Homo sapiens: one gene and its partners. The protein of the gene in region 1 interacts with the protein of each later gene in a biochemical or structural test. Each region holds a gene or a part of one and is shown in the gene's direction. Other genes may lie near its edges. The genes, in order: SLC26A3, LIN7A, ERBIN, FRMPD2, DLG3, PDLIM1 and MAGI3.

Region 1 (4,110 bases):
CCTGTGTATGTAAACTTTGGAGTTTAGGTCTACGTCATTTATATATCTTTTGCTCATAGTTCAGTTTATTTCAACAAACTTTCTTGTATACTTACTATGTCATAGGACCTAACAAAAGAGGGAAAAATGGTTAAGATTTGGGCCTTGCCCTTGGGAAACTCAGTCTTAAAGGGAACAGAAACATAAACAAATAATGTATGACATGGAATAGACATATATACAAGGTACTTACAAGAAGGAAATGATCAACTCTATCTAGGGATTCCATGAAGGCTTTACATCATTTTCTTATCTTCTACAACTGTGTTAGGAACTGAGTTCCTGACAAATAATAGGCTGATACATGTTTGTTGAAGGAATGAAGAAATGAATCAATGGTCAGCTGAGTTGTGTTTTGTTTGTTTGTTTGTTTTAGAGACAGGGTTTCTTTATATTGGCCAGGCTGGTCTTGAACTCCTGGCCTCAAGCAATCTCCCCACTTCAGTCTCCCAACGTGCCAAAATTACAGGCATGAGCCACTGCACCCAGCTGTGCTGAGTATTTTTAAGAATGAATTGGAATCTACCAGGTATTGGAGAAGAAGAACACAAAGGAAATCATGTGTACAGAGATACGGAACTGTTAAATATCATAGCGTGTTAGGAACCTGCTGCAATTGTGAAGGAGGAGTGAAGAAGCTTGTGAGATAGACCAGAGCCAAAACATGAAGGACCTTGTATGTCATTCTAGGAAGCTCGGATAGCTAGATTATTTTAAAACTATGTTAAAACAAACTGGGATAAAAATGGAAAACTGCTACTTCTAAAGATAAGCTCAGAGTAAACATAAAGTCATAGAAAAGTTGGCAGCACTAACATTTTCCAACAGGTTCCAGCTGACTTTTGTGGACCAGTTGTAAATTCCACCAACAGTCAATATTTAACTCACTTCTGAGACTGCTACCTATGAACTTAAGGCTAAGAAGTCTCCCTTTGTATACCCTGCTTTCAGTTTTAAGAACAGCCCTAGAAGGAAAATAATGGTCTCCTCCTTTTGCTTTAAGGAAATTGAAGCCTTGGGCCGGGTGCTCACGCCTGTAATCCCAGCATTTTGGGAGGCCAAGGCAGGCAGACCACTTGAGGCCAGGAGTTCGAGACCAGCCTGGCCAACATGGCGAAACTCCATCTCTACTAAAAATATAAAAACTTAGCTGGGCATGGTAACGGGTGCCTGTAGTCCCAGCTACTCGGGAGGCTGAAGCAAGAGAATCACTTGAACCCAGAAGGTGGAGTTTGCAGTGAAATGAAATCGCGCCACTGCACTCCAGCCTCCACCCTGGGCGACAGAGCAAGACTCTGTCTCAAAAAAAGAAAAGAAAAGAAAAGAAAATTGATGGCTTGAATCACTGGCTTATAGCAAACATAGTTAAGATATGGCAAGGCAAGGATTTGAAACCTGGTGTGCTTAGTTGCCAAAGTCTCACTCTTTTCTGTTGTACCTCCCGATTAATTTAGGTTTGACTTCCTTCTTCAGCATCTTCGGCAATGTAGTAATAGAATTGATGAAAAATAGTAGTAACAATTATTGCCCACCTCAGCCTTTGACCCCTTCTGAGCTCTCTTAATCAACCTCAGTGCTGAGACCCCTCCCCTCCATTCACCACTCCAGCCCTCTCCCATTCTGATGCCATCATCTCCCTGCTTCTATCCAGCCTCACGCTAACCAGAATGTGGAGCTTTTTGTGAGCTTGATTTCTGATTCCTCTGGCTGCCGATGGAGATCCCTCTGAAGGTGCTCACTGGAGCAATTATTCTGCTTGTTCCCCCATCTCTCACCCACTCCCCCAAGTATAGTTATCAGGACGCTGCTGTATTTCCCATTGTCCAAGGACTAATTCATGAAATAGGGCTGGCTTACCTCTGGTTTTGCACTGACTGGCTCAGAGATATTTTGAGATCCATGAGGTGAGTTGTGTTTTCAGCAGATTTCAGGCACAGTGTGGCATTTTCAGTGATGTCTCTATCGAAGGCCTTCCTCAGCTTGAACAGCTATGAAGGGGTGATGCTGCTAGGAGCTGCCTTGTCCAAGAGTGGAGGCATCTAATGTGACTGCGGAGGGGCTGGGAAGTGTTCTGCACCCTTGCTTGTCTGCTGGTTTCAAATGACCGCTAATTAAAGACAAATCCTAGCACCGCTCATCAGCATCTTGGTTCAAATTAGTTGTTTCCCAGCAAAAAGGGCAGACCTCTGAAAGACTAAAACACAGAATAGATAAACACTGAGTGGAAAGGTCAGGGCCAAAAGACACTTCTCAGCAGAGCGGGGCAGGCAGAGTGGAGGTTCTCGTAACTGGAGGCCAGTCTGCAGGTTGGAAATGGGTGGAACTTGAAGTGGTGGGGAGGTATGTACATGACAATCCCTAGAAATATCAAAAAGTTATTAATACATGGGAATAGTTAAACTGAGAAACTGAACTTCAGAAATTAATCCCAGGATTAAATTTCTGCTCAAAAAGAAAAAAAAAAAGCAGAGAACAACAACGTGTATGACTAAGCCACAGCACCAAGATATGTAGGTATATGAATGTCTTCATGTGTGTGTCTATGTATGTAATATATATATCATAAAGGCCAAAAAAATAATAAAAAGCACGTCGTAGGGAAGCAAATAAAAGTGGAAATATATACAAACAAGGCTTGGGATTCTATAATTAGTAAGAGGAAGGGACTCTGTGAATGAATTTCAATCCCCAAATCCACTGACACCCTAAGGAACTCAGAGATCCATGAAGATAGAACATGAAAAGGCTTTTACATTAATATGGGCGTAATATTTGAAATTGGAATTGTGATTCCAGGAACCAGAAAAAAGTGTTTTCCAAGAATTTCTGGCAAAAATGTAACTTGTTCAGGTGAAAAAAGAGTTTAAACAATCTCTTTTTAATTCCTAATTAAAGATGAGCCGAGATCTCGCCACTACACTCCAGCCTGGGCGACAGAGCAAGACTCCGTCTCAAAAAAAAAAGGTCCTGCTCAAGAATCTCAGAAATGATGACATGGAGAATGTCATTAATTTATGACTATCTGGAACATCTCTTCAGCAGAGGCACCATTGGGGTAGTTGATTCAGAGGCCCACATTGTATGTTACACATGGAGGCATAGCTTTTGGAAGCGGGGATGGGTGCAAGGGGAAAACAGAAAGGCTGGAATGTGGCCCTCAAGATTTCTCTCTAAAGTCTGGAAAGATTTCTTTTCTTTTCTTTATTTTTTGAGACGGAGTCTCGCTCTGTCACCCAGGCTGGAGTGCAGGGGCATGATCTCAGCTCACTGCAACCTCTGCCTCCCGGGTTCAAGCAATTCTCCTGTCTCAGCCTCCCGAGTAACTCAGATTACAGGTGCCCGCCACCACGCCTGGCTAATTTTTGTATTTTTAGTAGAGACAAGTTTTCACTGTGTTGGCCAGGTTGGTCTTGAACCCCTGACCTCAAGTGATCCTCCTGCTTCAGCCTCCCAAAGTGCTGGGATTACAGGCGTAAGCCACCGCGCCTGGCCGGAAAGATTTCTTAAGCTCCCCTGATTCCTACCCTGAGCAGGGCCCTTGCAGGCAGTGCTTGGGTATGAGGAGGAGGCTTTTACTGGCAGGACAGCCAGAGTTCAGGCTCTTGATCCAGCTGGAGGTATAAGAAAGCCCACTAAAGAGACAGCCATAGCCATCCTCAGAGAAGGAAACTGATTAGAAATGAAGTTATATTTCTCCCATCACTGTCATCGGCAAAAAAAATTAAAATAAAAAAAATACAACAGCCAGAAGAATAAAAGTACCTTCAAGATCTTTTTTGGGGAAGACAACTAATAAATTTCTGTGAACTCCTTGAGGAAAGCATGAGTAAAGCAAGCAAAGAGCAGAATCTTTTTTTTTTTTCCTGGCCATAGCAGCATCTGACAGAAGTACAAATGCACAGTGCTGAAGTCTTCTTCATCCTAAGGTTGGCTAGGTTGGTTCCTTCAAAGGATTAAAGCTGTTCTTATAAGATATTCCAGATACCCTTTGTGAGAAATCCAAGATGTCAGAAGTGATTGACCATGGATTAGATCTTAATTATTATTGCCCCAACCATGTTGTTGGTAATC
Region 2 (4,110 bases), on another chromosome or scaffold:
TTGTATATTTGCAGCCCTCACTTGTTTAATGGTAGCCACTGTATAAAACCTAGATTCCTTTATTCAAAATATAAAGAAATTCTCATAACACCTGCAAGTTTTTGTTCACACTGATACTGCCAAAATAGTAATGATCTGATGCTGTTTTAATATAAGAAAGTCTGATACGGTTGAAAGAGGAAAGATTTTGAAGGGAGATAGAGATGAGTTGCTGTATCAAATCTGCAACAAATTAGCTGTGTGGTCATCGGTATGTTCCCACCTCTGTGACTCAGTGTCTTTGTGTGTAGAGTGCCCAAATAAGAAGTTAGGAGAATTAACCGAGCTCATGGATATAAAATGGTTAGCATTACATTTGGCCCATGGTGATTTCTCATTAAATATATACCAGAATTATGGTAATTTACTCCAACAAATATTTATTGAATGTTTTACAAGAGCCTTTACTCAGTGCTATCCAAGTCTGTTTTTACAGCTTACCAATCATTGCACGTACGAAGAAAAGGTATAGCTTAATTCCTTAGATCAGGATTTCTCAATCTCAGCCCTATTGACATTTTGGCAGATAATTCTTTGTTCTGTGAGGCTTCACTGTGCATTGTAGGAATTTAGCAGCATCCTTGGCCACCACATGCTAGATGCAGTAGCATCCCATTTATGACAACCAAAAATGCCTCCAGACATTGCCAAATGTCTCCTGAAGGGCAACATTGTCCCCAGTTGAGAACTACAGCCCTTGATCAATTCTATGTAAACAGTGTTCACGAACTGCTCATCTTAGGAGATTTTCCCCAAAAGATCCATGGTCAAATAAGATGAGAAACATCAAATGCCAGCAACAGCATAACAATGATAGCTAACTTTTGGAAACATACTAAACATGGCAAATTGTTCTTATCTTATTTAATCCTCATAACAGACCTAGAAGTTACTTACTATTTTAAGGCACATTTTTAAAATGAGGAAATTGAGGATCAGAGAAATCAAGTGACTGACAAACATCATACAATTAAATGGTACAGCTACGGTTTGCTTCCAAGCCATCTTCAGAGTCTGTGAAATTATCTACTACACAGTATTGCTCCTTGAATATACCACTTTCTAATTCAAAATCAATTTGGGGTCTTAAGGCTAATTATTCTTAATTTGTGATATTTATTAGGTACAGGTATTTATCTCCAGCACTTACAAAATCACCTTTTGTTTTATTCAATTGATGACAATATTCCAATTATTTGCTAAATGATTGTCTTCATAAACATCCTTGGATGCAGGCAAAGTCACTTTCCCTGGCAATGTTAACCAAAATAACTTCAAACAAATTCAGATGACCAGGAACTGTGGAGAGACTCACTCTGCTTGAGGGAGGCAGAAAACATTTAATAGAGGAGACAATATTTGAATTTGACCTTTTATCATCATATTAAATTTGGATGAATAAGAGTCTGCCAGGTGGAAGGGCATTCCTAGCAGAGTAAACGGCATGTGCAGAGACCTAGGTAACTTGGAGAGTTCAATATGTTTGAGGAATGGTGGGGGTGGAGAAAAGAAAACAGGAAAATAAAACTAGAGAGAAGGCTGAGTTCTGCATTATTATCTGTGGCTTGACTCCTGTAGGTATTTGCCCTTATCACCTTTGCAGTAAGGGCAGCAGACAGCCAAGAGCACAGCAGGGACATGGTCAGGTAGGTACTTGATGATCACCAAAGTGTATATGGTTTGATGGCAGGGAGACCCAATTAAGTCACTAATGCAATGCTTGCAGCAAGAGATAATGAGCTAGGGTGGAATGAAGGGTCAGATTTGAGAGAGTTTATTACAAGAGAAGCAGGGCAGGGAAAATCCTCCTCTGAAATGGGCTATTAGAGCAAATAGTATAATTTATTTTTGGAAAGGCTGTCTCTATGAAACAAAATAATGCATTTCCAAGGAAATAATCTGGAAGTACGTTTAGCAGCTGTTCAGGTAACCTGGAGAATTTGCAGTAACATATCTCAGATTCCATAAATGATCTTCTGGAAACTTGTTCCTGTCTCCATTCAGATTTCCCATAGAAATTGAACACCTCATAATTGTTAAGTGGAGATTCAGAGCTAAAAGTTAGATTCTGAATTGCACTGTTGCCTTTTTAGTACAGACTACTTTGTCAATTTCCTTCTAACCATGTCACCTGGGAAAGATGAGTCAGCGTTAGTGGAGATTCAACCAAATGTATTTGAGAAATTATGAGCCAGTCAAAAATGCAGGGAAGAGATTAGTCCCAGACACTCAACAAATAGTTGTTGAATGGGTGAATTAATCAAATGTTGGATTCACTTATTTAATTTTTGAGTTAAGCATGTAAAATAAGATTAATATAAAGGAAGAAAAAAACCTTTCAACCTTCGATTGCAGTTTTTCCCTTTCCTTTTTTACTGAAATAGCTAATGGATCACTCCCCAAAAATACTCTAGCCTAGTACCAAATGGACTTTTATTGCTATGCATTATGCAATAAATTTTTACGTATACTATTTAAATCCAAAATGAACATATAGTCCAACACATTTAACCTTGTTACTTTTTTCCAAACATCTTCCTCAAGGCATCCTTTAAGTTTTTTTTTTTCTGTACTTTAGTTTAAGCAATTTATTTTACCATAGATACAAAGATTTTATAATCCCATCCCTGGAAGTTTATAAGAAACAATTTTTTTCTACTACATTTTAATGATTTCTGTAATTGTATCTAAAATCACAATGAGTAATAATATCTGCTGTTTAAGGAGTGCTATCAGGTACATTCCCAAACATCAGACCTATGTTATTTTGCAATAGAGAATTTTTTTCCTACAGTGAAAATATAATTTTCTTTCTGCAATAAAAGAATTATTATTCTTCATGTTCTTACACATTCTTCTTTTTATGTGAACATTTTAGGTGTATCAATATATGCATGAAACGATAACTGTTAATGGCTGTCCCGAATTCCGTGCGAGGGCAACAGCAAAGGTAAGGCTTGAGTAACTTTAAAAATATACTTGACCCCAGTTATCTAGTAATTGATTGTGCGCGTGTGTGTTTCAGGTATTCTCGTGTGTACACTGTAAGAGAATTTAGACATCAGTGGCAGCCCAGAGTCTAGAACCAGTACTACTTCTCAGGTAAAAATCCTAATGGAAAATTGAACGTTTCTGCTGCTTCTGTAGCTTAAGAAAGGAGAATGATTTCATTAAACTCACTTAATGTCCATTTGGCACAAGCAAATCTACTGGTTCATTGTGTGAAATACTATATGATTTTCAGACACATTCTTCTGATCTGAAAGAACCTGTATCATATTCAGTGCATGAAGATTTATTTGCACCGGTCTAAAGATTTGATTTCAAATAGACAGGAAAAGAATTCACCTGACACCCACTGATCTAGGATACTTCTGTGTATTCAGCTGAGCAGTGGGTAACTTGCTGAAAGGATGTGGCATAGACCTTATAGAAAACGCCTGTCACCTTTTGTGGTAGTGACCACATCTGCCCTTTAAAGACTCAAATCCAGAGACTGTAGAGACCCTACTAATGGAAATGTTATACCGATAACATCAGGAAATTATCAGGAAAATAGGCCATTAGGAAATACCAATTTTAAACTAAAATCACTGATGCAGCTCTTCTTTTACAAACACACAAATGTTATAATAGAAACATGACTTGCTTTTAAAAATACTTTATTTTTCTAATAATGTATAAGAAATAACCATTGAAAATGAGTAGAATTTTCCATTTAATTATTTTGTGTTACATCAACGCTTGTTTAGTTTCTCTCTTGATTTTTTAGTTTTTACTCTGTAACTGAACACTGTAGATTTGTAAGGTTTTTTTGTTTTGTTTTGTTTTGTTTAAACTCAGGGAAAAAAAGAGGGTGTTATTATCATCATGTCATGCTTTGCTTGTACTGAAGTGGAACACACACAGAAAAATGATCCCTACGTGGTTTAATTAAGGGGAAAGTGAATTGTGTAGTGTTTTACCATTCTCATTTCTTATTCATGTAGAACAGCAGGATAGCAGCATAATGTTGCAATAGCACAGTATTTTCTGGTTGTTTCTGGGCTGTCTGCATTGCATCCATGTCAG
Region 3 (4,110 bases), on another chromosome or scaffold:
CTATCCTGTCACCTCACCTTCAGCCGAGACTATAGGCATGCACCACCATGCCCGGCTAATGTTTTATTTTTTTTTGTAGAGATGGGTTCTTGCTCTGTTGTTCAGGCTGGTCTTGAACTCCTGGCCTCAAGCAGTCCTCCCTCCTTGGTCTCCCAAAGTGCTGGGATTATGGCATGAGCCGCTGCACCTGGCCCAATTTTGGTTTTCTAGCCCTATTTTTGGTCTGCATGTAACCTTTAATCTCTGAGATGTTCTTTTAACATTGTCTTTTGTTTATTCTACTAACACTACAGAAAATTTGATCTTACTGTGCTTTTGGTGTATGTCATGCTTTTTGTTTTTTCTTCAAATACTAGATTTTCATGGTAGTCAAAGTTTTATATGATGACCTAGTCTCTACTGTATTGGTCATTTAAATATATGTTCCCAGCCCAATGAATCCTTCTTCTGGCTTTGGTGATTGCTTAGAAGAGGAAAGGGAGAAATATTTAACGAGTTTCTCTTTGAAGGTATGTGGGTAGCTTGACCTTTTGGTACAGGTGCTTACTGTTCCTCAGGAGGCAGTCTCCTTTTTTCATAATCACACTGTCCAAGTGTCACATCTCCTACATACATAGAGCTGTACTAGAGGCTTTAGCTACACAGTGTTTTACTATGGTTTTGCTCTCTGGCTGACCGCTCAGGATATGCTTCTCTTAATCCTTCTTGCTAAGAAAACTCATCTTTTTTGGAGATCCCACTTTCTTCTTGTTTTGGGTGTCTGGTTCCTCAAGTGTATTGCATTTTGTTATTTCCCCGACCCCAGCCTACTTTGTATTCTTTATAAATTCCGTTCTGTTCTTATCTGTAGGTATACCCCTCCCAGGTTTTCAGCACTGCTATAGATATTTTTAAATTAAATTTTAATTTTTGAAACAATGACTGACATATGGAAAAGTTTGAACATTTTTTTTCCTGAACCATTTGACTAAGTTGCTAACATGATGCCCTGTCGTCATCCCTAAATATATATTTTTTTTTATTTGAGAGCTCTGTCGCCCAGGCTGGAGTGCAGTGGCGTGATCTTGGCTCACTGCAAGCTCCACCTCCTGGATTCACGCCAGTTCTCCTGCCTCAGCCTCCCAAGTAGCTGAGACTATAGACGCCCGCCACCACGCCTGGCTAATTTTTTGTATTTTTAGTAGAGATGGGGTTTCACCGTGTTAGCCAGGGTGGTCTTGATCTCCTGATGTCATGATTTGCCTGCCTTGGCCTCCCAAAGTGCTGGGACTACAGGCGTGAGCCACCGCGCCCAGCCCGTCACCCCTAAATATTTTAATGTTTATTTCCTACAAACAAGGATATTCTCCTGCATATAATGACATCATTACCATCAAAATCAGAAAGTAAACATGAATATATTACTAACATCTGAACCTCAATTATCCCAATAATGTGTTTTACAGCAAACTATTCCAGTTTGGAATCATGTGTTACATTTTGTTGTCATCTCTTTATTCTCCTTCAATCTGGAATAATTTCTTTCTCTTTTTTTTCAAGGCCTTGACACTTTTGAAGATCTGAAGATGACAGGCCTAGTTATTCTGTAGAATACCCCTCAATTTTCATTTGTGTGATATTTTTCATGATTAGATCTTTGATTAGATTTTTATGATTAGATCTTTGGCAGGGTTATTGTAAAAGTGATGCTGCATTCTTCTTATTACGTCTTATCAGGTGGCAGGCAATTTCAGTGTGTCCTATTATGGTATTCACTTTATGTGATTAAAGTTGTGGCTGCCAGACTTGCCCTTTTTAAGGTATTCATTCCCTGTTTGTAATTAACTAATATTTTGCGGTAGGTGCTTTGAAACTATGTAAATATTTTGTTTTGTTTGTCATATTTTAAATTCACTTATTTACATGTACCTAGGTTTATCTTCGCAAGGACATAATGCATTACTATTTATTTTGGTGCTCAAATTGTTCTTGATTGGCCAGTGAGAACCCCCTGGCTTATTTTCTTTTTTGTTTTTGATACCTCTTCCTTTTTTGAGTACTCCTTGTTTTTTAGCACAATTAGATGTTCTAACATATCTTCTACTTTTCCTGGTTGTTTTTAGTGGAAAATGATACTTAGAAGCCAAGATCTGGGGCTTGTGTACATTGTTGTTTTTAGGGTATTGTTACTCTCAGGCCCTCTTCATATACAAAGCTAGGAAATATTTTTATGTACTTACACATATTTACATCTATTTTTATTTATATATCTATAAATATATACAATGGTCCCTGATTTATACTTCTTTGACTTTACCAGGGGTTTTATTGGGGTACTAAGTGCATTTTCAACCTGTGATATTTTTGGCTTAAATGATGGGTTTATCCAGATGTAAACCCATTGTAAATCGAGGAGCATCTGCATATTTCTATAATGCAATTCTAATCCAGCACCACCAGGTTCACTCTAAGTTGTTTTTTTTCCCCTTTCCATACTTGTAACTTATCTCTAACAGTGAGAAATAGTTTTGTTTCCATATGTTATGTGTGTGAGGAAGTTAAGGTAAACATTTGTTCAAACATTTTTGAGCCAGAAGTGTCTGCAGTCCAATTAATTTCTGAAGTATTTCTAAAGAGATAAAATTCCAAACTGTAAAAAGGCAAGTTTTAATTCCGTGATAAAGTACATTTATGTGAAATATTTCATTCCTTAGTAATTCTTGAGGCGACTGTGAAAGGAGGATGGAAGAAATCCAGTACTTTTACTCTTTACATTGGACAAGTTATTTGTGGAGATAATTGCTCAATTTCAGTATGAGTGCAGTGATTTTGATGCAGTTGTGTTTTTCTTTTTTATTCTTTTTTGGAGAAGGGTCTCGCTCTGTCGCCCAGGCTGTAGTGCAGTGGCATGATCACTGCTCACTGCAGCTTTGAACTCATGGCCTCAATCAATCCTTTCACCTCAGCATCCTGAGTAGCTGAGACTACAGGCATATGCCACCACGCCCAGCTAATTTTTCTATTTTTTATAGAGGTAGAGGTCTTACTATGTTGCCAGGATTGGTCTCCAGCTCCTGGGCTTGAGTGATCCTTCCACCTCGAACCTCCCAAAGTACTGGGATTACAGGTGTGAGCCACTGCACCCAGCTGTGGTTTTCATATATTCAGGTTATATTGTTTGCATGATCCTGAAGTCTTGAAGCACCTAATAATGGTGTTCTTGGAATTTCACACCTTAGGTCACTCTAGACTCTTTGTGGGAGCATGGAGGGAGGTCTGATGGAGGGGGGGTGGGGAGAGGAGGGTATGTTTGTAGTAGGACCAGTGCAAGAAACTAGTGATCTAAAAATGAATCTTGTTGCCAAGGTTATCACACAACCTAGAATAAGTTGGTTTGACTTTCCTCTTCCTTATAGATTTTGGAAGTGATTTAAGAGGCATATCCTTTGAGACTAGAATAAATCTCTCAGTCTTCTAGGAAAAGATAAGGATCTTGGCAGCATCAAATGGATCCTTTGGGTGCCCTATTAATCCCTGGGGACTTCAGAAGATTTAGTTTATTGTCTTGATGCTGACTGCAAAATAGCAGGGACTGTATATAGTAGATGCTTTTTGATTTGTCGTGGATACCTGGTATCAACAGAGGGTCCTGTCTGCTCTTTTAAAAGCCATTCCCAAGCCAGGGACCCTAGGAGTCATCTTTATTTTCCTGACCTTAGTAATTGAAATTTCTGTCGATTCTGTCTTACAAATGTCTACAGAGTGAGACACTTTAGGGTAGGATAGGAAGGCTGGATAAGGTGAAGGGCTTTTGATAGGCAGAGGGTAAAAACAATTACCTTAATCTGTTTTTTCCCCAATTATAAAAATAATCTTGCTGTAAAAATTCAAACATAGAAATATAGAACATAGAAGATGAAAATTCTCCACAATTCCATCTCCCAGATATACTCCGGTATGTGTAGTTAAAATTGATAGCTAGCTAGAATCAAATTCCCTCTGAAGAGTGTGTATCAATTTGTACTTCCATCAATGGTATATAAAATTACCTGTATGCATTTTTGACCAAAATGGGTATTGGTTGTCTTATAATACTTGTGGACATCTGAGAGAGGCAATATAGTATAGTAT
Region 4 (4,110 bases), on another chromosome or scaffold:
TATTCTGCTAGGCTCTAGTACATTATTTACTAGCATGAGGCATATTCCGTCAGGGCCAGTTGAATGCCTGCATGAATGCTTCTTGTTCACAGCATGGTATGATCAGGCGGCACCCAACACAACATGTACAATGATCAAGCAGGTCAGTGACCCTGTGCAGCTCTCGAGCATGTGGTAGGTGGGGTGTGGAGGGTGCCTGGCCTGCCTGAAGGCCTCCAGCTGAAAACAGGAGCAAATGACAAAACATCAGTATCCACTAAGAGTGCTGGTGTTTGACACTTACTATCTCATTTCAGTTCCCTTAGAAGCCTGGGAAGTAGGAATGTTATTCTTATTTTATGGTTGAAAAAATGGAGGTTTACAGGATCACGTATCTTGCACATAGTAGGAGGCTCATATGAAGCCAGAGTTACCTCAGTGTCCCCTCTGAGACATAAAGATCCTACAGCCATTTTTCCCAGTGTCCTCCTAATAACTAGATCAGCCCTCGATGGGGTCCCTCTGAGGAGCTGCTGGATGACTGGACACAAGGCTGCCCTCCCCGGGCCATCATCCATACTCAGAAATGCCAAGAAGTTGCCTCCCTGAGCCACCTTATCTAACCTCACTGTCCTTCCCCGTGGGCCACCTTATCTAACCTCATTTTCTTTTCCCGGCAGCCCCTGCACTGGCCGGGAGCAGCTGAAGAGTGCCTGTGTGATCCAGAAGCCAATGACCTGGGACTCTCTCTCTGGACCACCTGTTCAGAGCATGCATGCAGGTATGGGCCAGGCCACGACCAGGTCTTGGGTGGAGGAACCCCTACGCAGGAAGCTTGCTTTGAGTCTTTTACCACCACTTATTTTTGCTTCCCACACAATGTTTGTAACCTTCTTGTTTTTTGAATTGTTTTCTTTTTAAACTACTTGTGATTGGGAAGAGGCGTTTAGCTTTGGCTGGGTATGAGGATCTGAAATGTGTCAGCTCTGGCGAAGACAATCCCAGCACTCTTGTCCAGAAGGAAGAATACCTGCTATGGAGGGTGTGTTCAGAAAAAGGCACCATTCACTGTAGATATGCTTCTTTATGCAGGCCAGAACATCACCTCCCAGTATTCACCAGAAAACATACACAGAGTAGATGGCAGTCCCTTCAGCCATGCATCCTCCTGGCCAGTTCCCTGTTGAATGTGAGGACAAAGAGATCCGACACTTGGAAAAATATCTCTACTCAGTGAGCATTAAGCCTGAGGGTTGGATCAGTGTATTAGTGCGTTTTCACGCTGCTGATAAAGACATACCCAAGACTGGGAAGAAAAAGAGGTTTAATTGGACTTACAGTTCCACATGGCTGGGGAGGCCTCAGAATCACGGTGGGAGGTGAAAGGCACTTCTTACATGATGGCAGCAAGAGAAAAATGAGGAAGAAACAAAAGCGGAAACCCCGGATAAACCCATCAGATCTCGTGAGACTTATTCACTATCACGAGAATAGCATGGGAAAGACCAGCCCCCGTGATTCAGTTACTTCCCCCTGGGTCCCTCCCACAGCATGCAGGAATTCTGGGAGATACAATTCAAGTTGAGATTTGGGTGGGGACACAGCCAAACCATATCAATCAGGAAAACTGCCAGGCAACTCTTTACAAGTAACTTGTCTGCCAATTTCTGCCAAGGTCCCTGGGGGAGGGAGAGACATGGAAGGACTGAAGTGGTGGGTCACCATTTGGGGATTTTCCCAAGTACACTGTGGCACACACTGAAGTGCCCCACTCCAGGACTCCAGCTCTCCAGGAACAGCTTCAGGGCTCTGCCTGGGGCTCCTCCATGATCCAAGCCAGGGGAAGACCACAGGTCACACAGGCTGGGCTGCTGGCACCTTGTCACCCCTGGTTATTTGAGGCCTGGGATGGGAAGGCTTTACTGTCTCACCTCTGTTTTAGCTTTTGTTTTTGTTTTGACTCTCAGCAATTATTAATACATCTCTGCTCATCCTCTGTCTTGTCCCAAAACCAATGCGGAAAAAAATAGCTACAGTAAGTCATACAGAAAACAAGCACCATAGCCCATCCTGTTCTTGCCTCTGCTCTTTAAGCTGGAACTTGAGCAACACTGAGTGACACTCCAGAGAGGCTCATGTGAGTGTGTGTTCAGGTGTCCATTCCCAGCACTGCTGGGAGATTAAATATGAGCTACTTTTGTTTTCAGGATTGTGTGCGTGTGAATGTGTGTGCGCGCATGTGTGTGAAATGCTGTTTACTCCTTTTGTATTAGCTCCCAAATAATTTGGGGGAAAAGCACAATGTGGTGCTCTGATTCTACCTCTAGGCTCAAAGAATAATAGGAGGAAGAGCTTTATAGCTGAACCGGGCCGAGAAATTGTACGTGTGACACTGAAACGTGACCCACATCGTGGTTTTGGTAAGAGGGCTCCCTGTAGGTGAGGCCCAGTCTCTACTGCTGGGCAAAGTGGGGAGGTGGGTACTGTTTTCCCTTTCAACTTGCCTACTCCCCTTTCCTATCCCTCCTCTCCCAGTCTGCCTTTTCTGGTAATCACTTCTGTTTTTTTTCTCCCTTTAATTGTTCCTAAAGAGCAATGGGACTTTTGTTTCCAAGTTTTTCTTTTTGGGGTGCATCTAAGTACAATGCAGAAAAAGATTTTTTCCCCTAATACCATGTAACAACATTCCTCTAGTCAGCTATGGGGAAGAAGAGTCAATTTATCTCACCTCTTACTAGTGACCACTTTCTAAGACCCGAAAAACTGTAGAAGAAACAAGGTACGGAGACAAGGTACTTGATTAAAAATCATTTCTTTCCTATGTCTCATTATCTACTGGAGCAAAATCCAGTGCATATTGGTGGTTTGTATTCCTAGCTTTAGCTGTGCTTACTAATGGGGAACAATCCACCTTTCTCCAAGTATCATGGTAAAGTAGAAAAGATCCTCTATTTGAGGATCAGAAGACCTGACTGTAACTATCAGCTAATGCCACTTGGTAGCTGTGTGATATGAGGGAAATAACCTAACCTCTCTGAACAGCAAAATCACTAAGTATCATCTTATCATGGACTATCATCTTGGATTACAGGGTTTGTCATTAATGAGGGAGAGTATTCAGGCCAAGCTGACCCTGGCATTTTTATATCTTCTATTATACCTGGAGGACCAGCAGAAAAAGCAAAAACGATCAAACCAGGTACATCTTTTTAAATTACTAGAGATGCTGTTTTAAGAAACCACTCTTTTTTATTTCCTTGAAGGATTATTGAGATGTTTTATTTTTCTAGGAGGGCAGATACTAGCCCTGAATCACATCAGTCTGGAGGGCTTCACATTCAACATGGCTGTTAGGATGATCCAGAATTCCCCTGACAACATAGAATTAATTATTTCTCAGTCAAAAGGTATGTTTTAACCCACTCTTGGGAGCTTAAGAGGCTCCCCTGTTTTCAGGAGTACATGATTACTGTGAGGTACTAGACCTTGAAGTCCACGTAGGTCTTCTATATTGCTTTCCTCATGGTGTTGGCTTGCAAAGAAGCAGTGTAGTGGCACAAATTAATAAGCTTTGCAATTTCAGGGGCAGAATGGGCGTTACCATGCTTGTCTTGCTGAAAGGGAGTAACCTACTCTAATTTTGTTAGACACGGCTGGATACAACCAGTCTTTTTTTTTCTGTCAACTCTCCTTGCATGGCAGGGAGGACCTTTTTATTGCCACCCAAAGTCCTTGTTGATAGGGTCGGCTCCAGGATTTCTATATTTTGTATAGAATCCTATACAAAATTTCTATATTTTGTATAGGTATAGCAATCAGCTGGGGAGGAGACAAGCACTGTTCTTTGTTAATCTTTTGTTTTGGGTTTAGGGCTACATGTGTAGGTTTGTTATTACAGGCAAACTCGTGTCACAGGGGTTGCTATACAGACCATTTCATCACCTAGGTGCTCAGCATAGTGCCCAATAGTTATTTTTCCTGATCCTCTCTCTCCTCCCATCCTCCTCCCTCAAGTAGGCTCTGGTGTGTGTTGTTCCCCTCTTTGTGATCATGGGTTCTCATTATTTAGCTCCCACTTGTAAATGAGAACATGCGGTATTTGATTTTCCTTTTTTTTTTTTGAGATGGAGT
Region 5 (4,110 bases), on another chromosome or scaffold:
AAGCTCAGATATTTAAAAAATTACAAACAGTTGGATTCCCGGCATCTAGAAAACATGTTTACGTCAACTCTACTTTATACACTTCAGCTTGTTACTGCTGTTGCCAAAGGTCAAGCATGGTTCTGGGAAGTGCTAAAATGTATCTTGTGTTTTAAACTTACAACCAGTAAACTCCGCCCTCTAATCTTCTACAAATTCATCCTAACTCCCCTAATTCATTTTATTTTATTTATTTATTATTTATTTTTTAGACAGAGTCTCGCTCTGTCACCCAGGCTGGAGTGCAGTGGCGCAATCTCGGCTCACTGCAACCTCTGCCTCCCAGGTTGAAGCAATTCTCCTGCCTCAGCCTCCCGAGTAGCTGAAATTACAGGTGCCCGCTACCATGCCCGGCCAATTTTTGTATTTTTAGCAGAGACGGGGTTTTGCCATGTTGGCCAGGCTGGTCTCGAACTCCTGACCTCAAGTGATCTGCCTGCCTCAGCCTCCCAAATTGTTAGGATTACAGACGTGAGCCACCGCGCCCGGCCTCCTAAATTCATTTTAACATCTTCCTTCCTTCTCTCACCAAACTAATTTGTGCTTAATTCAAGTTCTGTTCTTTTCCTTACTATATTTGTTCTAATCTTTGAAACCCATAATGACATCCAGTGTTTCTCATTGTCACTGAGAATGAGGTTGCTTCATGATGCTCTTCTTAGTAGGAGTGGCTGACAGAATGTCTTCCTTGCTTTAGGAAATGCAGGACTCAGGCAGTGAGAATGCATTCAGTTTTGATTCTGTCACACATAGCCCGGAATGCACCTCTCGGACAGCACCTCCTTGTCTGCTGCCTCTGCCATTCTCCTTACTGCTTTGAGTGTGTAAATTGAGGGGAAAAAAGGGCTTTTTGTTAGAGTTTGGGTATTTTCATTTTCAAATCATCTGACGCTGATTTTTAAGAACTCTGTTTCAAGAGCTGTAAGCAGTAGGTGAGTATTTCACTCTTCATGGTTTTACTACATCCTATCTCATTTGGGCTTGCATATGGTAAGATAGTGTGTTTTACTTGCAGCTTCCAACTGAGCCAAAGGCCACAGTATTGCAGGTAGAAGTCAAAGTCTTGGAACTAGATTTTGGGCTGTGTGTGCAAAGGTGTGAAAACACCTTATTAACAGAGAATATGAAGAAGACAGCCTAGATTGCAGGTAGAAAAATACAAACTTCTCACTGAAATCACCCATTTGTGGTGACTCCATATGAAGACAGGTTCCACTGGATGTGAAAAGTAGAAACTTTTTTTTTGGCTTTTTTTTTTTGAGACAGAGTCTTGCTCTGTCGCTTAGGCTGGGGTGCAGTGTCGTAATCTTGGCTCACTGTAACCTCCACCTCTCAAGTTCAAGTGATTCTCCTGCCTCAGCCTCCCGAGTAGCTGGGACTGCAGGCATGCAACATCACACCCAGCTAATTTTTGTAGTTTTAGTAGAGATGGGGTTTCACCATATTGGCCAGGCTGCTCTTGAACTCCTGACCTCAGGTGATCCACCCGCCTCAGCCTCCCAAAGTGCTGGGATTACAGGCGTGAGCCTCTGCGCCCGACCTCCTAAGGCTCTTTTGATGTGTCACTCCTCTCAGATTTCCAGGGGCCACTAGATCTTGTCTATTCAAGGGCTTCCAAAATTTGCTTCAGACCTTTATTTCCAATACCATTTCCTAGGACTTCTAGCATCAGCCAAGCTGGTGTCCTTTTCCATAAGCCTGGATTGTATAGCTCCCTCCCCACCTTCTCCCACCTTCCCTTTTATTTCTTTACTCTGCATCATTTATAGCATGTCACAACAGCATGTCTTGTCAGAAGACCTGGGTTTTGTCCCAGGTTGGTTAGATGTATGACCTAGGTCAAACTATTTTTTCCTCCCTGAACCTCTGTTTCCCCATATGTAAGAGAAAGAGACCGCACTAGGTGACTTCTATGGTCCCATTGGTCTTTTCAACCCTACCATTCTGTGCTTTTTCTTTGGCTGCCCGAGGACATAGGGCCCTTTCTTTAGTGCTTCAGGAGTGTTTACCAGTCATTGTTTGGGATTGTAGTTAACATTTTTTGTCCTCTCTTTAGCTACTTTTTGAAGATATGTTTGTGAACTGAGAAAGCGCCCTGCTAGAGCTAGTTTCCTAGGATGTGGGTGAGGGAGAGGGCTATTGAGCGAGTTCTACTTTGGACTTTTATCTTGCATCCAGAAGCCAAGAGGAGATGGGGTTTGTAAAATATTTTCTCTTATGCTTCTTATTGGGAGAATGAGATGTTTCTTTGAAAGCGGGTGCATATTTACCACTTTGGCTCAGAAAGAAGGATGTGGTCTCCTGGAGACATCCTTCTAGTATACTGTGAGGCTGCTATGTCTGTGCTGTTTGGGTTGGCCTTCCATCTTTTCAAGGTGCCAGTGTCTTGGCATTTAGGGTTGGATGATCACTTCATCTTTCACTGTGCCTTTCAGGGCCCTGTTTGATTATGATCGGACTCGGGACAGCTGCCTGCCAAGCCAGGGGCTCAGCTTCTCTTATGGTGACATTCTGCATGTCATTAATGCCTCTGATGATGAGTGGTGGCAGGCAAGGCTGGTGACCCCACACGGAGAAAGTGAGCAGATCGGTGTGATCCCCAGTAAGAAGAGGTGAGTCGTCATGATCATGAGCAAGGCCTTTCCTGCCCTCTTGCTGGTATTTCTTTCTTGTTTTCCTATTAGAAGTTGCTTGAGAGCAACGTTTGTGCCTTGATTCCTTTTTGGTAGAGTCGGTACTCAACATGGTTTTTACTCAGTGAGCCAAAAAAATGGCTGCTGTGCCTGCTGCAACCCACTGCTGAGACCATTTACTGGCAGTAACAGGACTTCTTTCTGATTCCAAAACAGGGTGGAAAAGAAAGAAAGAGCTCGATTGAAAACTGTGAAGTTCCATGCCAGGACGGGGATGATTGAGTCTAACAGGGTAAGTGGGGATCCCCAAGGAAATCAGCCAGTAGGTAAAGAGGGTTGAGAAGCCTGGAGTTTAGTCTGATGTGTAGGAGAACTGGGGAACACAAAAGAAAATCTCTTTTTCAGGGGGCTGGCTCTGTCCTATCAGAACATTGACTGCTTTTCAGAAAGCAGAGAGGGAGCTCTTAAAGTTCACAGCCAGTCTGTGCTCCTTTCCCCTGGGTACCGGCTCTTGAAGATGTGTTAGAGTTGGACTGTCTGGAAGGCTGACTTGCTTGGGGAAAATGAAACCACTCGTGGGTGTCTCCCTGGCTATAGATCCTGTCAGAGCATCCGGCCAAGAAGCCCAGCTCCAGAGCTCCCACCTCCCTTCAGACCACCTGAGGCAGGCGGGTTCTCCATTCACCCCTTTTTTTCTATGAGCTTCACAGGCCAAAGAACTTCTGGAGCAGTAGAGGGAAGAGAGACGTGGAGTAGATGTGTATATCAGTGGTACCTTAGGGCATGTGTCCAGGAGGCTACAGTGACCTTTGTTCTTTAGGAAGTACCAGTGAGTGTTATGAGTGTCTGGATTATGTAGAAACTTCTAACATCCCTACAACATTTTCTTGTAAACATAATTTTCCTCTTACATCAACTTTCATTTAATCTCATAGACTCCATTTGTGAGAGATGGTCTTTTATTTAGCTCACCGTTGTCTCCATTTTAGTTTTTCTTGCATGCTTTAAAATCCATTGTTCTGTTTTTTTTTTTCTTCTGTCCTTCCCCTCCATCTTCATGTTCTTTCACAGTCGATCAAAACGAAACGTAAAAAGAGTTTCCGCCTCTCTCGAAAGTTTCCATTTTACAAGAGCAAAGAAAACATGGCCCAGGAGAGCAGCATACAGGAACGTAAGTAGCAGCAGAGTCCAGAGAGCAGGCCATCTGCAGCCCCATCCTCTCATCCTCAGTTGCCCTTCCCTCGAGAGAAGCCTGGGCAGGGCCACGTGTGGCCTCGTGCCTGCCTGTGTGCGTGTGCACCTGCTTATCTACAGAGTCAGGGCAGAAACTGGTCTGCCTAAGGAGATGTTGGGTTTTATTTGTCCTGCTCCTCAGTTAGAATGAATGTTGGAGGCACTGAGGTGGGACTGGTCCCAGGGTCAGCCTCCAGGAAGTGCC
Region 6 (4,110 bases), on another chromosome or scaffold:
TGCTTAGAGAAGATGCCCACCCAGGCCCTTCTGAGATCCCTCTAGGAAGGGCCAGGATCAGGGTGAGGTGAGGGAGGCACTGCTTTGAGGGCAGAATTTTTTTTTTTTTTTTGAGACCTCTGTCGCCTAGGTTTGGAGTGCAGTGGCGTGATCTCGTCTCACTGCAACCTCCGCCTCCCGGGTTCAAGCCATTCTCCTGCCTCAGCCTCCCAAGTAGCTGGGACTACAGGCACGTCCCACAATGCCCGGCTAGTTTCTGTATTGTTAGTAGAGATGGGGTTTCACCATGTTGGCCAGGCTGGTCTCGAACTCCTGACCTCAAGTGATCTGCCCGCCTTGGTCTTCCAAAGTGCTGGGGATTACAGGCATGAGCCACTGCGCCCGGCCTTGAGTGCAGAATTTAAGGGGGCACTGGAAAACTCAATAATCATGAAAAAAAATGACATTTAAATGCAATATTAAAAAAATTAATACAGGTAAAATATATGGTGAACAAAGTTGGAACTTTGGCCTCCTCCCAAAGGAAGGGAGGAAGGCTTGGGAAGGGCAAGAAGTTGCCCTAGGCTCGGGGAGAACAGAAGCACCAAGGTGGTTTCTCCTTATGCACCTGCTGGTGGGGCAGAACTGAGTCTTCCCCAAGCCCATCTGTAGAGCTCACCACTTAAAACCATGGAGCCTCCTAATCTCAGCCCCATCTCATGTGCTGCCAGGTGGACATCTGTGTGCATCGGTTCCCAGCGATGAATAGTCCCAGCTCTGAGGGGGGAAGCCTAAGTCTGAGCCATGGCAGCATGATAGGGCTATTGAGAGTTCAGGCTGCATTCACATATACCCTCTTGTTGTTCCCCATAAGCCAGCCAAGTACCCCAAACCATCTCTCATATTGTATTATTCAGCAGTGGGTAATCTGTATTTATGAGGGCTACCGGATAGCTGTGGCTCTGCTGGGCTTGGCAGGGCTGGACCAGGCCCCGAGTCCTCTCATTCAAGCCCAGGGAAGGGAGAGGCACTCTGGTGCTTGCTGTTTTCATGGCAGAGGCAATACCTCTGTGGGAACAGGGCCAAACCACACAAGTGCCCTTAGTGCTTTTGCCTGTATAAGGCTCACATCTGCTCACGTTGGCTAAAGTCAGGATGGGGAAGTCTACTCCATCGAGAGCAGGGTTTCTCAGCCTTGGTGCTATTGACATTTTGGGCCATATGAGTCCTTGTTGTGGGGCTGCCCTGTGTATTTTGGGATGTTCAGCAGCATCCCTGACCTCTGCCCACTAGACGCCAGTGGCATCCCCTTTCACTGTGACAATCGAAACTGCTCTCTAGGAGACAAAACTGCCCCCAGTAGGGAACCACTGACTGGAGGTAAGCATGGCAAGAGAGGGGCGGGGTAATTGTGGTCAAAATACAGTCAACCATGTATTCTAAATGCCCCTTGTTGCCAGGCACAGTGGCTACTGGAGAAGCTCTGGTGGGAGGATCGCTGGAGGGCAGGACTTTGAGACACAACATAGCGAGATGCTATCTCTAATCAGTAAAAATAAACAATTAATAAATGTCCATTGTGTGAACATGTGTCTCAATTTTTGGTTCGGAAGGATTGGTCAGCATACAGGGACTCACTTTCTGAAAGAACAAGAGAGCTAAGGCCCTTGTCTGTCAGCCCCGCGATTGCCCGACGTGACTGCAGTCATGGGGTGACCCTCTCTTCATCCCCTCACCTGGCACAGGAAGCTGTTTCTTTGCTCTTGTCCAGTGGTTCTTGGATCAGTGGCGCCTGGGAACTTGTTGGAAATGCAGTCTTAGGCCCCATCCTGGGCCTTCTGGCTCAGAAACTCTGGGGGTGGGGCCCAGCAATCTGTGTGTTAACAAGGCCTCCAGGTGATTTTTACCATTATTAATAGCTACCATGGTACAGGGCTTTGTTACCTAAGATGTGATGAGTGGGGCCTTAGGCAGCTCAGCATCTAGCTACTAGGGGCTTATTTTACACGCACCAGGCTGACTACAGAAAGGCTCCTTCCTCTGCTCTGTAGGAGATGATTGTTATCTGCCTGCTGTAGCATGCTGTATTCTGATGGTTTTGTTCTATCTGTGATGTGGATTTCTTTTCTAAGAACTTTATTTATTTTTAAATTTCCAACATTTAAGTTCAGGGGTACATGTGTAGGATGCACAGGTTTGTTACATAGGTAATGACGTGCCATGGTGGTTTGCTGCACAGATCATCCCATCACCTAGATATTAAGCCCAGCATCCATCAGCCATTCTTCCAGATGTTCTCCTTCCCCCACTCCCCACCATCTGACAGGCCCTAGTGTGTCTTGTCCCTCCACCATGTGTCCATCTGTTCTCATCATTCAGCTCCCACTTACAAGTGAGAATATGTGGTATTTGGTTTTGTGTTCCTGCATTAGTTTGCTGAGGGTAATGGCTTCCAGTTCCATCCATGTCCCTGCAAAGGACAAGATCTCGTTCCTTTTTATGGCTGCATAGTATTCCCTGGTGTATACGTACCACATTTTCTTTATCCAGTCTATCATTGATGGGAATTTAGGTTGATTCCATGTCTTTGCTATCATGAATAGTGAGTGCTGTGATGAACGTAAGAGTGCATGTATTTTCATGATAGAATGATTTATATTCCTTTGGGTATACATCCAGTAATGGGATTGCTGGGCTGAATGGTATTTGTGCTTCTAGGTCTTTGAGGACTCACCACACTGTCTTCCACAATGTTTGAACTAATTTACATCCCAACAGTGTGAAAGCGTTCTTTTTTCTCCACAACCTTGCCAGCATCTGTTGTTTTTTTACTTTTTAATAATAGCCATTCAGACTGGCGTGAGTCGGTATCTCATTGTGGTTTTGATTTGTATTTCTCTAATGATCAGTGATGTCGAGCTTTTTTTCATGTTTGTTGGCCGCATGTATGTCTTTTGAAAACTGTCTGTTCATGTTCTTTGCCCACTTTTTAATGGGGTTATTTTTTTCTTTTATTGAGATGGAGTCTCGCTCTGTTGCCCAGGCTGGAGTGCAGTGGCACAATCTCAGCCCATTGCAACCTCCGCCTCCTGGGTTCAAGTGATTCTCTTGCCTCAGCCTCCTGAGTAGCTGGAACTATAGGTGCATGCCACCACACCTGGCTAATTTTTGTAATTTTAGTAGAGAGGGGGTTTGGCTATGTTGGCCAGGCTATTCTCAAATTCCTGACCTCAGGTGATCCACCCACCTCGGCCTCCCAAAGTGTTGGGATTACAGAAGTGAGCTACTGTGCCCGGCTTATTTTTTTCTTGTAAATTTGTTTTAAGTTCCTTGCAGATGCTGGATATTAGACCTTTGTCAGATGGATAGATTGCAAAAATTTTCTCGCATTCTGTGGGTTGTCTCTTCATTTTGATGATAGTTTCTTTTGCTGTGCAGAAGCTCTTTAGTTTAATTAGATCCCATTTGTCAATTTTTGCTTTTGTTACAATTGCTTTTCGGGTTTTCATCATGAAATCTTTGCCCATGCCCATGTCCTGAATGGTATTGCCTAGATTTTCTTGTAGTGTTTTTATAGTTTTGGGCTTTACATTTAAGTCTTTAATCCATCTTGAGCTGATTTTTATATATGGTGTAAAGAAGGGATCCAGTTTCAATTTTCTGCATATGGCTAGCCAGGTCTCCCAGCACCATTTATTAAATAGGGAATCCTTTCTTCATTGCTTGTTTTTGTCAGGTTTGTCAAAGATCAGATGGTTGTGGGTGTGTGGTCTCGTTTCTGGGTTCTCTGTTCTCTGTTCTTCTACCAGTACCATGTCGTTTTGATTACTGTAGCCTTGTAATATAGTTTGAATTTGGGTGGCATGATGCTTCCAGCTTTATTGTTTTTGCTTAGGATTGTCTTGGCTTTTTGGGCTTTTCTTTGGCCAGGTGTTAATCTCCTATTTTATAGAAAAATAAACTGGGGACCAGAGAGGCTAAGTTACTTGCCCAGGATCACAGAGCAGAGTCACTCCAGTTCCCATGGCCTTGCTTGAACATATATTTATAAGTGGTTCTGAAGAGCTGAGTGATACTTATGCAATTCTGCCCTTCCTGGCCAATGACAGTGTTTTCCTCATTTCAGGGGAT
Region 7 (4,110 bases), on another chromosome or scaffold:
AGTGCCAGCATGGAGCTAGCACTGGCGATATAAACATGAGTCAGAAATTGTGTGTCTTCAAGAAGCTGGCAGTTTAGTGGGAGCTTAATGACTCATTGGTAAGGAATACCTGTAGTAAGGGTTTTGCCTTTTTCACTTTTCTGCCAGTGTTTAAAACTCTTTAGGTAGGTCTTAGTATGAATTTTGGTGAAAATGAGACTAACTGGCTGCATAGTGTGCTATTCGAAAAAGTAGTGGAGCTGCATTTTAGAAAGGATTTGGGTTCTCAAGTCATCACAAAAAGAGGGAAATCAAATATAAGCAAAACTGTCTTTTCAAAAAGCCCTTAAATTGTGCATAAAATACTATATTGTACTGTTTGTAGGATGAGTCCAAATGCCACTTTTCCACCCATGTTGGAACCAATTGCAGTTTTTTGGTCGAATACCAGAAGAAGTAATTTGCTTGCATTAAAAAGATATGTTTTACAAAAAAACTTTTAATTCTAAGAAATTATCCTCATCTAGGTATGTACAGTGAATTTATGGAAATTAAATGTGTACATGAAGTGAAAGAATGATTTCTTTTCTTTTTTTCTTTTTAATATCTTGGTAGGATCCACGCCATCTGCCCTTGTTTTCTGACTTGAGTGGTTGAGGAATGAATTGTGAATAATTTTGAACTTGTTTGGGTTTTGAAAGATGACAGATTTTGGTTGAGTGGAATTAGGATCTTTCCAGTAGTAGGTAAGAAGCAGAGGAGGAGAAAAACACAGGGCAAAAACGTTCCATACAGAAAGGTTTACAGTGTGGTCCATCTCAATAATTTTGTGTGTGTTTGTGTACAAGGGCACAAAATCCACATTATAGAATAATTGGAAATTATTTTGTACAAGGGCACAAAATCCACATTATAGAATAATTGGAAAATAGAGGGAAGATCATATTAATTGTTTAAATGTATAGGTAGTTCCATTATGAATAGTCTCCTGTAAGTTTTTTTTAAATGTGTTATCTCCTCGAAATAATGCTCTAAGGTGCTTAATGCTATTTCTGCCTTCAGCCTCATTCCACTCATAATGTTATACTATGAATATTTTTATTTAACCCTTAATGTACCATTAGTTCTGTTCTTTATGGTTAATAGCCCTATTTTTGTTGTTTTGGAAGTCTAGCCAGTTTTATGGGAAAACACAATTTGCTAGCCTAGGAAAAAGGGAATTGAAAAATATATTTTCATCTTAATCCCGCCTTCCCTTTTGTTACAGCCACAGCCGACTGGCTTCCAGTGAGAAGGGTGGCATCATTATATCTCCATTCTTCCCTGAACCCTAGCAATTTATCCTGATGCAGCCACTCAGCTGCATTGCAGTGGTTTCCAGGAGCAACCCACTTACCTGCAGCCCCCACCCATTTCAGTCATCCCAACATGGCCAGGGGAACATAGATTACATTTTGAGGACCATAATTTGACTTATGACATATCTAAATACCTGAGAAAGGACACGCTGTCCTTATAGGTGATTAGGTACTTGTTTTATTAACACATACTGAGAGATATTGTTTTAGAGACTCTGTATGGGTTATGAAGGGTTAAACTTTTTTGCCATAATTTGTTTGGAGTTTAGGGTTTGGTTTTAAAAAATATCATGCAGTGGTAATTGGAAAAAATTTTGTTTCAAATTTATTAATAATTAAGATCTTTTCTATTTGGAGGCTTCCCTTTTTATTGTCTTGGGTATACAATGTGAACGGTAACCGATCTACTTAATTAAAACTTTCTGGCATTTTAGCCTCTTTGCTTTTGCTGGTTTTTTTGCACATAATTTGAAACACGTAATTATTATTTTCTGGCTTCAGGGGAGTTTGTGAGAGGCAAGCCTGTATCTCGTTGTTCTGATTGGGAATTACACATGACTATGAAAAATGGGATTTTACTATACATAATGGCATTTAACAGAAGTAGTTTTATGAAAGGAAAATATCCTACAAGGTAGGAAAAAAACAAGTATTTATTAATGCTTCATTTTCTGAACTTAAATAGAATTAAGCTAAATTGGCTTTGCTTTTTCCTCCAATAAAATAACTTTTAAAAATTCACTTTAATGGAGTAGTTCCAGAGATATATTACTCTTTGGATATGGTTATCTAGTTTGCAGCAAGTATCTTGTGATATATAGCTTAGATCTCAGCAGGAAAGAAAAAAATCTTAATTTACATATCAGTTTCTGTATTTGTAAGAATTCTGTAGCAAGTGACAGAAACGCTGTTGAGATTAATGTAGGCTAAGAAGAAATTTATTGACTTACATACATTAAAATCCAGGCATAGATCAGTAACAGCTAACTTCTGTTCTCAAGTGTTGGTCATTAGAATTATTATTTGGTTCTCTTTTCTTCTGGGTTGGATTTTTTCTCAGCTAGACTGTCAGTGTAGCGGTGAAGGTAGCTCTGAACCCCGAAGTCATACAGGGTCCTTAAAGCTTCTCATCTTTTTGGAGTCTAATAACAAATCTCATGCAGGGACTTTGGCCCTGTGCCCATCTCTTGGACCAATTATTGTAGAGAGAGGAGAGGACAATGAAGTGCCATGATTGGTCAGGCGTGGGGACATGTCTACCCTTGCAGCTGGGTATAAATAGCATAATATGATTAATAACTGTAGCAGAACCCCAAGACGTAAGGGAGGGGGAGTTCCTGAAAGGGTGGGATGCCGAGGAATCAATACTACAGGAAATGATCTCTTTTAAAACATTTAATCTCTCTTACTTGGAGGCCAGAAGTAGTACACAGTTGTCATAAAACTATCATTTTTAGAAAAACAGATATTGGCTGTAAACCAAAACTGATTTGATTTCTAGGCACTGCTTTTACTCAAATATTTAAATAAAAAATTGCTTTTATTTAAAAGTTATTTCTTTAAAAAATTGAAATACTGATACCTTAATGTGCACAATTTAAAAGTATTTCTTGTAATTTTTATTTAATTTTCTTTAAAAAAATTAAATAAGATTCTCTAAAATCAATGCTGTTGATTTTTAGGGAGATGGAATACTTTGGAAGATTAACAGTCTTTGGCATTGAGAAAAATATTATTAGCCTAGTTAAACAATTACGTTTTTAAAACAATTTTATTCTACCATTTTGAAAATGAAATTCTAAACGAATTACTTTCCAAGGTGTTTTGCTTTTAAAACAATGGTCTTTTTAAACACAAATTGAGACAATGTCATTATTGTAGTATTTCTGAGGGCTCCCTAATAATACTTTTTAACCATGATTTCGTGGAAATTATGTGAAAGGAACTACTTCACTGACTCTTATATAAAATGGGTATATAAGAGTTTTGAAACATTACTTAAGTATGGTGTCATGTGGTAACTGTTTAATTACCAAAAATGTTATTTGGCAGATATTGCAGGATAAAATCTGATCCCCTTTTTAAAGTTTTTTATAGCCTCCACTGGGAGAACAGAGGTACTCAGAGCAGGGGTAGACAGTTGAAAGAGAGGGGTGGGTGCTCCAAATAACATTTCATACTATTTTTATATTCTATTACTGTATCAATGTCTTCAGCTTTGGTGCCATAAAAATAATAATTTTAGTAATAACTTTGAGTTTATATATGCCATGCACAGTAGGAGTTTTGTAGTTTTGCCAAGTGTCATCTGGTAGTTGGATCTTTAGTGAATATTAAATGTTGGTAGATTATTGGTGAATGCACTTACTGTACATAAAAATGAACATTCATGGAATTGGGTGTGATTTGCCAGTAAGAATCATCATAGCAAGTACTTTGTATTGTTAGATTAGTTTGGGCACCCTTCGGATGACTTTAGACCATATTTGGAAAATTACTGCTTCTACTTCAAAAGCCTGTAATAATTAGAGTTCTCCAATATTAATTCCATATATTGATTAATTAAGCCATGAAATCTAGTAAAATGATATAGTCTTTATTACCTCTGTTCACAGAATTGTATCTCAATCCAACTTGGTAGCTTTCAGCAGAACACTTTGTCAAAATATTATTAATTTTAGCTAAGAATTCTATTCACTAATTTCAGTGTTTAAGTTAGAATGCACATGCTAGTGAAAATTTTAATTTCCTTTGAATAGAATTAGATTTGCTA

What was found.
Region 2: the proteins of SLC26A3 (region 1) and LIN7A interact in a test that uses a peptide from one of them, tested with the Homo sapiens proteins (one large-scale study listed by IntAct).
Region 3: the proteins of SLC26A3 (region 1) and ERBIN interact in a test that uses a peptide from one of them, tested with the Homo sapiens proteins (one large-scale study listed by IntAct).
Region 4: the proteins of SLC26A3 (region 1) and FRMPD2 interact in a test that uses a peptide from one of them, tested with the Homo sapiens proteins (one large-scale study listed by IntAct).
Region 5: the proteins of SLC26A3 (region 1) and DLG3 interact in a test that uses a peptide from one of them, tested with the Homo sapiens proteins (one large-scale study listed by IntAct).
Region 6: the proteins of SLC26A3 (region 1) and PDLIM1 interact in a test that uses a peptide from one of them, tested with the Homo sapiens proteins (one large-scale study listed by IntAct).
Region 7: the proteins of SLC26A3 (region 1) and MAGI3 interact in a test that uses a peptide from one of them, tested with the Homo sapiens proteins (one large-scale study listed by IntAct).

What each region holds. Positions count from the first base shown.
Region 1 is NC_000007.14:107,796,633-107,800,742, reverse strand, and holds part of SLC26A3 (chloride anion exchanger), read left to right. Parts: intron 1-4,110. UniProt on the Homo sapiens protein: Mediates chloride-bicarbonate exchange with a chloride bicarbonate stoichiometry of 2:1 in the intestinal epithelia. Plays a role in the chloride and bicarbonate homeostasis during sperm epididymal maturation and capacitation.
Region 2 is NC_000012.12:80,847,130-80,851,239, reverse strand, and holds part of LIN7A (protein lin-7 homolog A), read left to right. Parts: intron 1-2,917; coding exon 2,918-2,989; intron 2,990-3,064; exon of another isoform or gene 3,065-3,141; intron 3,142-4,110. UniProt on the Homo sapiens protein: Plays a role in establishing and maintaining the asymmetric distribution of channels and receptors at the plasma membrane of polarized cells.
Region 3 is NC_000005.10:65,932,899-65,937,008, forward strand, and holds part of ERBIN (erbin), read left to right. Parts: intron 1-4,110. UniProt on the Homo sapiens protein: Acts as an adapter for the receptor ERBB2, in epithelia. By binding the unphosphorylated 'Tyr-1248' of receptor ERBB2, it may contribute to stabilize this unphosphorylated state.
Region 4 is NC_000010.11:48,183,842-48,187,951, reverse strand, and holds part of FRMPD2 (FERM and PDZ domain-containing protein 2), read left to right. Parts: intron 1-659; coding exon 660-760; intron 761-2,306; coding exon 2,307-2,399; intron 2,400-3,070; coding exon 3,071-3,178; intron 3,179-3,269; coding exon 3,270-3,386; intron 3,387-4,110.
Region 5 is NC_000023.11:70,489,633-70,493,742, forward strand, and holds part of DLG3 (disks large homolog 3), read left to right. Parts: intron 1-2,474; coding exon 2,475-2,651; intron 2,652-2,888; coding exon 2,889-2,964; intron 2,965-3,743; coding exon of another isoform or gene 3,744-3,843; intron 3,844-4,110. UniProt on the Homo sapiens protein: Required for learning most likely through its role in synaptic plasticity following NMDA receptor signaling.
Region 6 is NC_000010.11:95,238,681-95,242,790, reverse strand, and holds part of PDLIM1 (PDZ and LIM domain protein 1), read left to right. Parts: intron 1-4,105; coding exon 4,106-4,110. UniProt on the Homo sapiens protein: Cytoskeletal protein that may act as an adapter that brings other proteins (like kinases) to the cytoskeleton. Involved in assembly, disassembly and directioning of stress fibers in fibroblasts.
Region 7 is NC_000001.11:113,396,729-113,400,838, forward strand, and holds part of MAGI3 (membrane-associated guanylate kinase, WW and PDZ domain-containing protein 3), read left to right. Parts: intron 1-4,110.